Linked DNA regions of Homo sapiens. The protein of the gene in region 2 purifies or fractionates together with the protein of the main gene of each other region. This does not show direct contact. Each region holds a gene or a part of one and is shown on either strand. Other genes may lie near its edges. The genes, in order: AFG3L2, MAP3K6 and RNF123.

Region 1 (3,646 bases), on a different chromosome or scaffold from region 2:
GTCTGCTGATGCACCTTCAGTGCTTGTGGTACACCATGAGCACGGGTGACCTTGCTGACTCACCTTTCTCTCCTCTTACCAAATGTGAGCACTGGGTAACATTTCCTCTGCAACTCCCTCTCTCCCAGGAGGGTGGCTCCAAGTGTCCCCAACCGCCCATCTCACTCCACCTGGCACACCCTGGGACCACCACTGCCTGTTCCCAAGTCACACACGCATACCCCTGCCCCGGCTCACATGCAGGACAGCTCATTCTCTACGAGCCAGCTGCCTCTGCAAGCGCCCCACACTCCTGCGGTCTCTCAGTCTGTCCTCATTTTTTTTACGGCTGTCACTGGTGCTCCCCCCTGATAAGCTGTGGGCTCATGGTGCTCACAGTGATGACTGCAAGGTTCTCTGCCTCCATCCAGAGGCTTCCCTACTCTTCAAAGCCAGATTCATTCTCCTAAAATACCATCGATCATTATGTTACTCAGTGGCTCACGCCTGTAATCCGAACACTTTGGGAGGCCGAGGCAGGCAGATCACCTGAGGTCAGGAGTTCGAGATCAGCCTGGCCAACATGGTGAAACCCCATCTCTACTAAAAATACAAAAATTAGCCAGGCGTGGTGGCACGCACCTGTAATCCCAGCTGTTTGGGAGGCTGAGGGAGGAGAATTGCTTGAACTCGGAAGGTGGAGGTTGCAGTGAGCCAAGATCAAGCCACTGCACTTCAGCCTGGGGGAGAGGGCAAGACTCCATCTCAAAAAAAAAAAAAAAAAAAAAAAAGGAGTTAGAGACCAGCCTGGCCAACGTGGTGAAACCCCATCTCTACTAAAAGTACAAAAATTAGCCGGGCATGGTGGCAGGTGCCTGTAATAGCAGCTACTCGGAAAGCTGTTTATTTGAACCCTGGAGGTGGAGGTTGCAGTGAGCCGAGATTGTGCCACTGCACCCCAGCCTGGGTGACAGAATGAGACTCTGTCTCAAAAAACAAAAAAACAAAACAAAACAACAACAACAAAAAACCCACCTTAATTCAACACTGGCCATAGGACAAAATTTTAAAAGTCTTTGAGCTTAACATTCAAGACTTTCCAAAACTGACCAGTTTACTCTCCCTCAACACAGGGTAGACTGCCTCAAGTCCATCTGCCAGGCCACTTCCACGTCACACCCCAGTTTCATCCTGAGCCTGGGGCACACCCCTCCTCTTCCGTGGAACTCTGCCTGGTGCAGGGCTTCCCCTTCCTTTGAATGCCCAAGTTCTTGAATTGCTACTTGCCTTTAGGGATTAAATCAGAAGCCCTATGGAATGCTAAGAAAACGCACTGTGTGCGCTCCCCCTATGCTGACTGAGGAAGCACTTCCAGCTCTACGCCTGTTACAGTTATTTTATTTTATTTATTATTATTATTTTTTTTTTTTTTGAGACAGAGACTTACTCTGCTGCCCAGGCTGGAATGCAGTGGCACGATCTCGGCTCACCATAACCTCTGCCTCCCGGGTTCAAGCGATTCTCCTGCCTCAGCCTCCCAAGTAGCTGAGACTTCAAGTACGAGCCACCATGCCTGGCTAATCTTTGTATTTTTAGTAGAGATGGGGTTTCACTATGTTAGCCAGGCTGGTCTCAAACTCCTGACCTTGTGATCTGCCTGCCTCGGCCTCCCAAAGTGCTGGGATTACAGGCGTGAGCCACCGCACCCGGCTGTTACAGATATTTTACACCCATCACCTGTATCTAGCACAGAGCACCTCTAACTCATGTGATGAAACTTTTGTAAACAGGAAGGTTGTGAGCTTTTTAACAAACTTGATTGGTATAGTTCATGGGTAGACACCTCGCTGCTGGCTGCCTGTGCAAGCAAAGCATTCGTGAGCTGCCATCTCAAACTCACCCAGCACCATGGACCTCCATGCAGAGGGCAGGTGGCAGGGGACGGTGGCAGGAAGAAGGAGGAGAGGGAGGAGAGGCATGGGAGGGGCCATGACACCAAGAGAGCACAAATGTGGTGGGCCCCAGGGCTGAGTGGATACACTTTCTTTGCTTCTAGTTCTTGCCCAAACAGAGAAATCCCTGGCCTCAAATTCATTTTATCAGCCTTTCCACTTGAGTTATGTTCAGTTTCCTTACCACCAATCACTCGTTCAATTGCCTGTTCAAAGTGTTTCTGATTTATGGAATCTGACAGATGCCTTGCAGCAATCAACGCAGCTTCATTACAGACATTAGCAACATCAGCACCTAAAAAATGAACACAGAACAGCTTACCCACCGAAATACGCCCAAACTGATCAGTCACACAATATGGACAGCCAAATCCATAGTTAATTTTTAAATCAGCAGTACAATGAATAAAGGTTTTGTGTAAATATAATTCTGTTTTGACTCATGATAACCCTAAGCTATTCTAGCGTTTAATGTAAGCCTGGTATAATTCTGGCCCTCTGAACTAAGATGAAAGTATTAGTAGTCAATAGATAATTACAGGCAACTATTTACCTTAATAGACAATATAGCTCACATAATAGCAAACTAAGACAGCATCTAAAAATGCTCATTTAAATAACTTAGTTCTATCACCTGTGTTGGAAAAATGGCTTGCATAGATATTAGGTGAAGTACTGATATATGATGAAAAATCTAATTTTTATAATCACCTAGTACATTCAGTGAAACAACTAAATTTAAATATAGCTAAAAGCTTGTCAAATGCTTTTTAGATCCATCTCTTTAAACTAACTTTTCAGTTAAGTATATGGTAGCATAAATAAGCTACAGCATACCATCTGTGTTAAATAAACAAATATTAAAACATTATAAATTTCAAAGTCCAAAGACAAGTAAAAAGTTAGGATCCCTGGAACAAGATGATCATCTTCTGACCACACTATTGTATATAATCTTTTCATACTTCTCAAACTGTTCTTTTTTTATTTCATTTTGCGTTCAGAAGGAGAGAAATAGGGAATGGGAAAGGATCATATTTTACATTAAAAAATTATTGGAATAAGCACATGAAAAGATGCTCAACATCACTAGTCATTAGAGAAGTGCAAATCAAAACAACAGTGAGATGCCAAATCACACCAGCTAGGATGGCTGTAATAAAAAGACAGTGACGAGTGCTGGCAAGGATGTGGAGAAACTGGGACCCTCACAGGTTACTGGTGGGAATGTAAAATGGCACAGGTAATTAAAACAACCTGGCAGTTCCTCAAAAAGTTAGAGTTACCATATCACCCAGCAATTCCACTCCTAGGTATATACCAAGAGAAACACTATGACCACAAAAAATCTGTACACCGATGTTCATGGCAGCATTATTCATAATAGCCAAAAAGTGGAAACAGCCCAAATGGCCATCAACTGATGGGTGGATCAACAAGATGTGGAACAGCCAAACAATGGCACATTTACTTGGCCACAAAAAGGAATGAAGTTCTGATGCCTGCCACAATTTGAATCAATCCTGTTCATTATGTTAAGTGAACATAAACCAGGCACAAAAGACCACATGTTTTTATTTTTATTTTTTTGAGGTGGAGTTTTGCTCTTGTCACCCAGGCTGGAGTGCAATGGCGTGATCTCAGCTCACTGCAACCTCCACCTCCCAGGTTCAAGCGATTCTCCTGCTTCAGCCTCCCGAGTAGCTGGGATTACA
Region 2 (3,646 bases):
ACCGCGCCCAGCAAGCACCACACCCTCGCTGGCAGGAGGCCCGTGGCATTCCCCTCCTACCCGGTCCTAGCACACCCAGGGCTGCCCGCACAGCACGGCTGAGCAGTGAGTCCAGAACGAACATCCAGTGTGGACGGATCTGGCGCTTGCGGAGGATCTGCTTCACCTGCAGGGGGAGGGAGGCGCCGCTGAGACAGCTGAGCCTCAACTAGAGGCAGGGCTTGAGTTGGAAAGGCCTAGAAAGTCTTCGGCGGGAGGCGAGTGGGGTGGGCGGGCTTGAGGTCCAGGGAAGGCCTGGGAAGCTAGGACTGGGCAGACGGTTTTTTGCTGCAGGCCTGATCTTCACAGAGGAGACAGGGAATCTGGGAACGTCAAGTCCTGGCACCTCACCAGGCACGGGGAACTCACTACCTGTTGTTGGGCAGCTCTAACTACCAGAAGGCGCCCTCACCGCATCCGGGAAGGCAAACAGCGGTCTGTGCAGAAGCGCAGGCCCAAGGCCCTGGGCCCTCAGCCGTCCTTGCAGCGCCCGCAGCTCCTGGGCGAGCTGCCGGCGGTTGGGAGTGTGGATGTGTGCCCCGAGGCAGCGCAGCAGCTCTTCCACATGGTTTCTGCCCAGACGGGCCCCCTGAGAAGGAAGAGAGGGGTTGTCAGCGAGTGCTCCAGCCAAAAGAGACGCTGCCGCGGAGGTAGGGGGCGGGGACATCAACAGGTGTCCTGACCCTTTGCGACCACCAGGGGGCGCTAGAGTGGGCCGCCCACCTGCTCTTGCTTCTGCTCCTGGTGCAGATTCTCCGCCAGCGCTGGCAGCTCCTGCTCCAATACTGCGGCCAGCATGGCCCGACGCTTGCTCTCCTGGTGCAGCAGGCTCAGCCCCGAACTCTCCTCCGGAGACGCAGGCTCCTCGGCCGCAGGCTCCTCGGGCACCCTGGGCACAAGGGCGAGCTGCTGATTGAGGACGGGCAGCAACCGGCCAGTCACCTCTGTTGCCGGGTTTGAATCCTGGCTCTCCTACTTTTATGCCTACCTCACAGGCATGAACATAGATAAACCCCGCACTGAGAGGACACAACAAGTCCAAGTTAGAGTTGCCAGAACAGGGCATGGGGAGGCACCAAATGCCACATTCACAAGTGGTCAAGGTGCCCAGGTCCCCAGGGAGGGCTTTTGTAGGAGAGGAGAAAAAGGCAAAACCAGGCAAAAGGAACCCATCCCAGGAGCCTTGGTCTCACCGGAGCTGGCTGGTGCCCCCATAACTGAGGCAGCGCTTCGGGGGGCTGGGTGGGTGCTGAGAGGGTGCCTGAGGGCACGGGAATGTCTGAGACTGGGTGGTTGAGTTGGCTGAAGGAGTGGGACTGGCAGAAGGGGCATCTGAGGGAGGGACAGAGCCATCAGCTGGGCTCTCCTCCACCCTCACAGCTCCACAACTCCTCTGCCCTCCACTGTGCCCATCCCGCCACCCGCAAGCACCTGAGGGCCGTGGAGCATGTCGTGGGGAGCTGGGGCTGCGGCTCCTTTTCCCAGGCTGCAGGAAGGGGTCCCCCAGCAGTGTCTGGGCGCTGGCTCGGAGGCGGGGGTCTGGCTCAAAAGTTCGGAGGAGAAAGGCTTGGGCCTCGGCCGACAGAGAGCTGGGCATTGGCGGATGGACCTTGTACATACCCACCTGTGGGGGGAGGGTGAACAAGGGTGACATTCAGAGGTGTCCAAGGCCCAGGCTGGCCCTATGCCACTTCCATGGGCCAGGCCCAAAGAGGTCTCACCTGAAACATGGCAGCCTGTGGGCTCCCGAGCTCGTGGAAGGGGGGGCGACCTGTGGCCATCTCAATGACAGTGCAGCCCAGTGACCAGATGTCAGCTGCTTTCCCATACCCGCGTGGGCCCTGGTCAATGATTTCTGGGGCCATATACTGCAGAGTTCCTAGGACAGAAACAGGAGCACCAATGCCCATCTAGGCTTCATCATGGGGTTGGAGCAGGGAGGGGAATGCCGTCATCCTCAGGCCGACTGCACCCATACTGAACCTATCATCCAAAATATACCTCAACACCTATCCTGGTCATCAAACATCTATCCTGAGTTCCATCACCACCCTGGGCTCCATCGCCTGCCAAGGCTTCCGTCATTCATCCTGGGCTCCACCACATTCACAGACTCCATCACCCACAGTAGTGCTCCAGCACACATCCTGGATTGCCTCGTCCCCCTGAACTCCATCACCTGCTTTTTCCTCCAACTCCCACCTTGGCCTGCATCAACACTCCTCAAGTGCTAAAGTCAATTTCATCACTTCTCCAAGCTCCAGTTCCAGATGCCACCACCTCAGCCCTGGCCCAATCACTCACCCTGGGTTTCATTCCCCATTAGGACTCTAACTCCATGCCTAGGAGAAACCCCCTTCCCTGGAAAGTTCCAAGAGATCTTCTGCCCCAGGTCAGCATCCCCACTCACCACCCCCACACCTTGTTACCTGTGAAGGTCTCAGTGCAAGGTGTGATGCCTGCCAGCCGCTTGGAGGTGCCGAAGTCAGAAATCTTGAGCAGCCCACTGAAGGTGTTGATCAGCACATTGTCCCCCTGATTGACAGCCATTAGTGGACACTGGTCTGGGCCCCTGCCAGCAGAAGTAGACCCTCTTTCTGGGATCCCATCTCCTGGAGATCCCAGCCTGGTCCTGCCTCTGTCAACACTCTCCCCTTGCCATCCCACTTATATGCCCCTCTGGGAGCTGACAATTGGTTTGGCTTCAGAGCTGAACCTTTCCCCTCCTTCTCTAAGGAGCCTCCCTGATGAATTCCCTACCCTTTGCAACAGGTCTGCTCACTTAATCTAAACTGCCAGCCTGCGTCTGGGACCATGTTTCCTTCCCCGCCACCCTCAGCAGATGAGGGCGGGCCAGCCCCAGGGCTTACTTTTATGTCCCTGTGCACGATGTGGTTGTCGTGCAAGTAGCCAAGTCCCTGCAGGATCTGGCGGGTGTAGAAACTGATGGTGCTCTCGTTGTCCTTCAGGGGTCCCCACACCGACCGCAGCAAGGAGGACAGGCTGCCTGGGTGGGGACAGTCCAAGTTCATTCTTCCCACCCACTGGCTCCAGCCCACATCTCTCTGCTCAAGGCCCAGACACACCCATGTTGTAGCCCAACTCCATCACCCAGCGCCACTCCTCAGCTAATTCTAGGCTACACCACCCACACGCACTAGGGTGCATTTCCCCCTAGGGCTCTCTACCCCTGCCTGCCTCGGTCCCATGCTTCACACCTCGGTTTCATTCCCATCCCACACAGGGCAGGTACCTCCAGGCACTTCCTCCATGAAGATCTTAAGGTAGCCGCCCTGGCTAGCTGAGCCCAGATAGCGCACTATGTTCTTGTGGCGCAGGCGTCTGTGAAGAGCGATCTCTTCATGCAGGGGCTGAGAGAACCTGAGGGGAGGTAAGGGAGAGAGGAAAGGGACCGAGGTGGGCAGAGAAGCCCCGCCCATCCCACGCCAGCCTGGCCCCGCCCCAAGGACCCGCCCCGCCCACAAGCCCTCTCCGACCTTCCCCACCCTTACTACCCTGCCCACAGGACCCTCCAGACCTCAATCCCGCCCGCACGGTCCTGGCTGTTCCGCCCACGGGCCCAGTCCACAGGGCTCGAACTCTCAGG
Region 3 (3,646 bases), on a different chromosome or scaffold from region 2:
GGCTGTGGAAGCCCCCCACCCCGCCTGGCCCAGACCCCAGCTCACCACAGGGTCCAGCTCCACACTCAGCACTGCCCGGAAGCAGCCCAGCAACCTCTGTGCCCGCACCAGGTCAGCACTCGGTGGGTCCTGCAGGGGCCGGTAGCCTGCCACTGGGTAGGTGCCAGAGTTAAGCCAGCAACGCCTTATCTGTGGCTCAGACATGCCTACTCCCTCTCCACTGCCCACCCCCCACCCCGGGGCCTGGGCTCTAGGGCAGGGCTGGTTTGCATCACAACTTGCCCACTTATTCTCCCTAGGGAGGATGCTTCACATTCCTCATCTGTTCAGTGGAGACAAGGGCACCCAACCAACCAGGCTGCTGCGAGGAAAGTTTTCTTCGACACTCTACATGGCCCCCCACTAACTCTGCAGCAGCCAGGGCCTGCCACCAGCCCATGGCACCCCTGGGGTAGGGAGCCCCTCATCCCAGCCTCCCCAAGAGCTTCTGAGCAGCCCACAGCCATCTTCACAAAATGATATCGCAGAGGACGGCTGCCAAAGTTGAAGGCCACGGACTCCTTGAAAGAGAGGCTGATGGCTGGGAAGTAGGCCATACCCAGGCCCCTGGACAGGTTCTCAAAGGCAGTGCCCAGTGATACACCGTTCCTGGGGAGAAGGGTGGGTCTGTGAGCCAGTGCTAAGCATGTGGCTGCCCACCCTCAGGCTATCAAACTCAGTCTGGCCCCTTACAGGGCCCAGGAAACTGGGGGCAGTCTGGGGAGGCCCCAGGGGCCAGGCCTGTGCATAGAGATAGGAAACTCACAGGCAGAAGGACAGAGTGCCATCATCCAGGTCAATCAGGCAGCTCACGATGTCCCCCGCTGCCCACGCCTGCCATGAGAGGAGGCCTCACCAGATGCACAGAAGCCCAGCAGCCTGCTGACTCTGAACCCCAGCTGCGTTTCCAGAACCACCCAAGGGAGACTAGCCACAAGGACAAAGGACCTGGGTCCCTGACCCTTCCCTGGTGCCCTGTAGTCCCTTATGGCTGCCCAGTGGCTCCAAATAAGCTGTAGTAACAGTCATGGGGCGGATGACCCACAGGGGCTTGGCTCTCACCTTGCCATAATTCGTTGTGGTCACATTCCACTTGCGCACGCGGTTGCCATCATAGGCATAGGAGTTGTGTGTATCTCCAACCCCCTCCTAGGGAGGAAATGCCTATGAGGTCCCTGGTGAGGCAGGCAGGGTCTGGGCCAGAGCCCACCAATCACCAGCCTTGGATGCATATGGCTCTACAGAAGGGAACAGATGATCTGAGGGAAAGAGTAAGAGGTATTCTCTGAGCTGGGGTGCCTGGGATTGGGTGGGACACGTTTCTTCTCCAGAGGGCAGTCCAGGTTAGTTAGGGTCCTAGGCAGTTCTGAGGGGATCTGGAGACCTGATGAGGCCTGTGGCAGGAGAAGCTCTCCCTGGGCCCAGGGAGGGGTCCCCTCCCCAACGTGTACCTCCTGGTTGAAGCGGCAGCTGATGGTGCACCAGCCGATCTGCATGAGCCCCTGGGAGGAGATGAGGACCTCGTAGAGCCATTTCCCTGGAAAGAGCTGAGTTAGGGCCACGAGGTGGACAAAGACTGCCTCTTGCCTCATGCCTGGGCCCTTAAACTTTCTCCTCACTACCTAGGCCACAGCAGGGTAAGGTCTCACCTTTGTACACGCATGTGGTAGAGCGGATGGTGCCAAAGTTGCTGTGTCCAATCACCTGGGTGAAGAAGAGGGGTGGTGGGCTAGCTCCCAGGCACACAGAGCATCTCCCCAAGGGAAAAAGACCCCATCCCCAACTGAGCCAGCCCTGGTGGTATTTGCCTGTGGCGGCCAACACTGCACTGTGCCTGAGGACGGTGGGAGCGGGTAGGCTTGTATCAGGAAGGATCCTGGGCCAAGGCAGGATGAGAGAGGGACTCAGGGCTGTGCTGGGAAGGGCTGGGGGCTGAGTCCACATCAAGACTGTTTCAGGGCTTTAGTGGGAGAGTTTGAGGACTGAGAACACAATGGTCTGGGGCCACGTCAGGACAAGTTTTGGCTGCAGCCCCATCAGATGAGTAGAGAGACTAGGGCCACATCAGGAGGAGCCTGGGGCTATGTCAGAAGGGGCTGGACCTGGGTCTCCACACCTCACCCTCACTCACCCCCAGCAGGTCATCATCCACCAGGAGAAGCCCCTCAAAGCCGCCTGTGTGGTCCAGGACCACAGTGGATGGGCCAAGCCGCCCTTCAACCTGTCCTGAAAAGAGGAGAGGTGGGGTCAGGCAGGGTGGAGCATTTGACAGGATGCATAGGGTGTCCTGAGCTCACCAGACGTCTCCAGGCCCGCTACGTCCCAGCTCTGCACCTCCCAACCCCACTCCAGAGGTGGCCACATACCCTGGCTTTCCTCCTCCTCATTGTCCACCTGTAGCAACTGGTCCAAATGTTCTGGCAGGTTCTGGAAGTTCAGGGGTTTCCTGGGGAGAGTGAGAGGCTGCCAGGGGTCCACAAGTCCTTGAAATCAGCCAGATGACACTAAATCCCATCCTTTCCCCTGAGCTCACAGGGGGGCTGCCTAGACTCCAGAAAAAGGGCTGTGCCTAGTCCTAGACTCTGGCATGCAGGAGGTCAGAAGGCCGAATTCTCCACTAAACTCAAAAGTATAACCAGTCCAGGCCGGGTGTGGTGGCCCATGCCTGTAATCCCAGCACTTTGGGAGGCCGAGGCGGGCAGATCACCTGAGGTCAGGAGTTCGAGACCAGCCTGGCCACATGGTGAAACCCCATCCCTACTAAAAATACAAAAATTAGCTGAGTGTGGTGGCGCATGCGTATAATCCCAGCTACTCGGGAGACAGAGGCAGGAGAATAGCTTGAACCTTGGTGGGGCAGAGGTTGTAGTAAGCCAAGATCGTGTCATTGTACTTCAGCCCGGGCAACAAGAGTAAGACTCTGTCTCAAAAAAAAAAAAAAAAAAAGTATGTGGCCAGGTGCGGTGGCTCATGCCTGTAATCCCAGCACTTTGGGAGGCTGAGGCGGGCAGATCACGAGGTCAGTAGTTCAAGACCAGCCTGGCCAACATGGTGAAATTGCGACTCTACTAAAAATGCTGGGCGCGGTGGCATGTGCCTGTAATACCAGCTACTTGGGAGGCGGAGGCAGGAGAATTGCTTGAACCTGGGAGGCGGAGGTTGCAGTGAGCCATGATCGTGCCACTGCACTCTAGTCTGGGTGACAGAGCAAGACTCTGTCTCAAAAAAAAAAAAAAAAAGTAGCCCTCTCTAAGTCTTAATTCCTTCATCTGTAAAAACAGAATAGTGACTTATGTTAGAGATGCTGTGAAGAGCCCAGGGAATAACAAGTGCTGTCTGCATAGCACATAACCTGTCCGCTCTCAAAGGTGGCTGTGCTGATGATGTCTGGAAGAAGAAGGCTGGGAGAAATGCTGGTTCCCAAAGTGGTCAGTACCAAGGCCACCTAGTCCAACCCTTGCCCCTAGGCCTGTGGTTCCTTTGGGGCAGATTCCAGTCTCGCCACCACCCAGCCAGGGGAGTCTGTGTTGAATGGGACATGTTCTGGAAGTATGAAAGGCTCAGCCCTCTGAGCTGCTGGATGGCTCTGTCCTGTACCCGCCAGTCC

The links.
Region 1: the proteins of MAP3K6 (region 2) and AFG3L2 purify together in Homo sapiens (affinity purification with mass spectrometry, with the first as the bait; one large-scale study listed by BioGRID). This does not show direct contact.
Region 3: the proteins of MAP3K6 (region 2) and RNF123 purify together in Homo sapiens (affinity purification with mass spectrometry; 2 studies listed by BioGRID and IntAct, with this or other methods). This does not show direct contact.

What each region holds. Positions count from the first base shown.
Region 1 is NC_000018.10:12,346,158-12,349,803, forward strand, and holds part of AFG3L2 (mitochondrial inner membrane m-AAA protease component AFG3L2), read right to left. Parts: intron 2,227-3,646; coding exon 2,116-2,226; intron 1-2,115. UniProt on the Homo sapiens protein: Catalytic component of the m-AAA protease, a protease that plays a key role in proteostasis of inner mitochondrial membrane proteins, and which is essential for axonal and neuron development.
Region 2 is NC_000001.11:27,356,949-27,360,594, forward strand, and holds part of MAP3K6 (mitogen-activated protein kinase kinase kinase 6), read right to left. Parts: intron 3,421-3,646; coding exon 3,293-3,420; intron 3,047-3,292; coding exon 2,910-3,046; intron 2,612-2,909; coding exon of another isoform or gene 2,575-2,611; coding exon 2,469-2,574; intron 1,919-2,468; coding exon 1,761-1,918; intron 1,664-1,760; coding exon 1,471-1,663; intron 1,372-1,470; coding exon 1,233-1,371; intron 949-1,232; coding exon of another isoform or gene 929-948; coding exon 763-928; intron 629-762; coding exon 452-628; intron 167-451; coding exon 61-166; intron 1-60. UniProt on the Homo sapiens protein: Component of a protein kinase signal transduction cascade. Activates the JNK, but not ERK or p38 kinase pathways.
Region 3 is NC_000003.12:49,695,982-49,699,627, reverse strand, and holds part of RNF123 (E3 ubiquitin-protein ligase RNF123), read right to left. Parts: intron 2,486-3,646; coding exon 2,406-2,485; intron 2,266-2,405; coding exon 2,171-2,265; intron 1,744-2,170; coding exon 1,689-1,743; intron 1,577-1,688; coding exon 1,491-1,576; intron 1,189-1,490; coding exon 1,102-1,188; intron 874-1,101; coding exon 806-873; intron 649-805; coding exon 523-648; intron 161-522; coding exon 46-160; intron 1-45. UniProt on the Homo sapiens protein: Catalytic subunit of the KPC complex that acts as E3 ubiquitin-protein ligase. Promotes the ubiquitination and proteasome-mediated degradation of CDKN1B which is the cyclin-dependent kinase inhibitor at the G0-G1 transition of the cell cycle.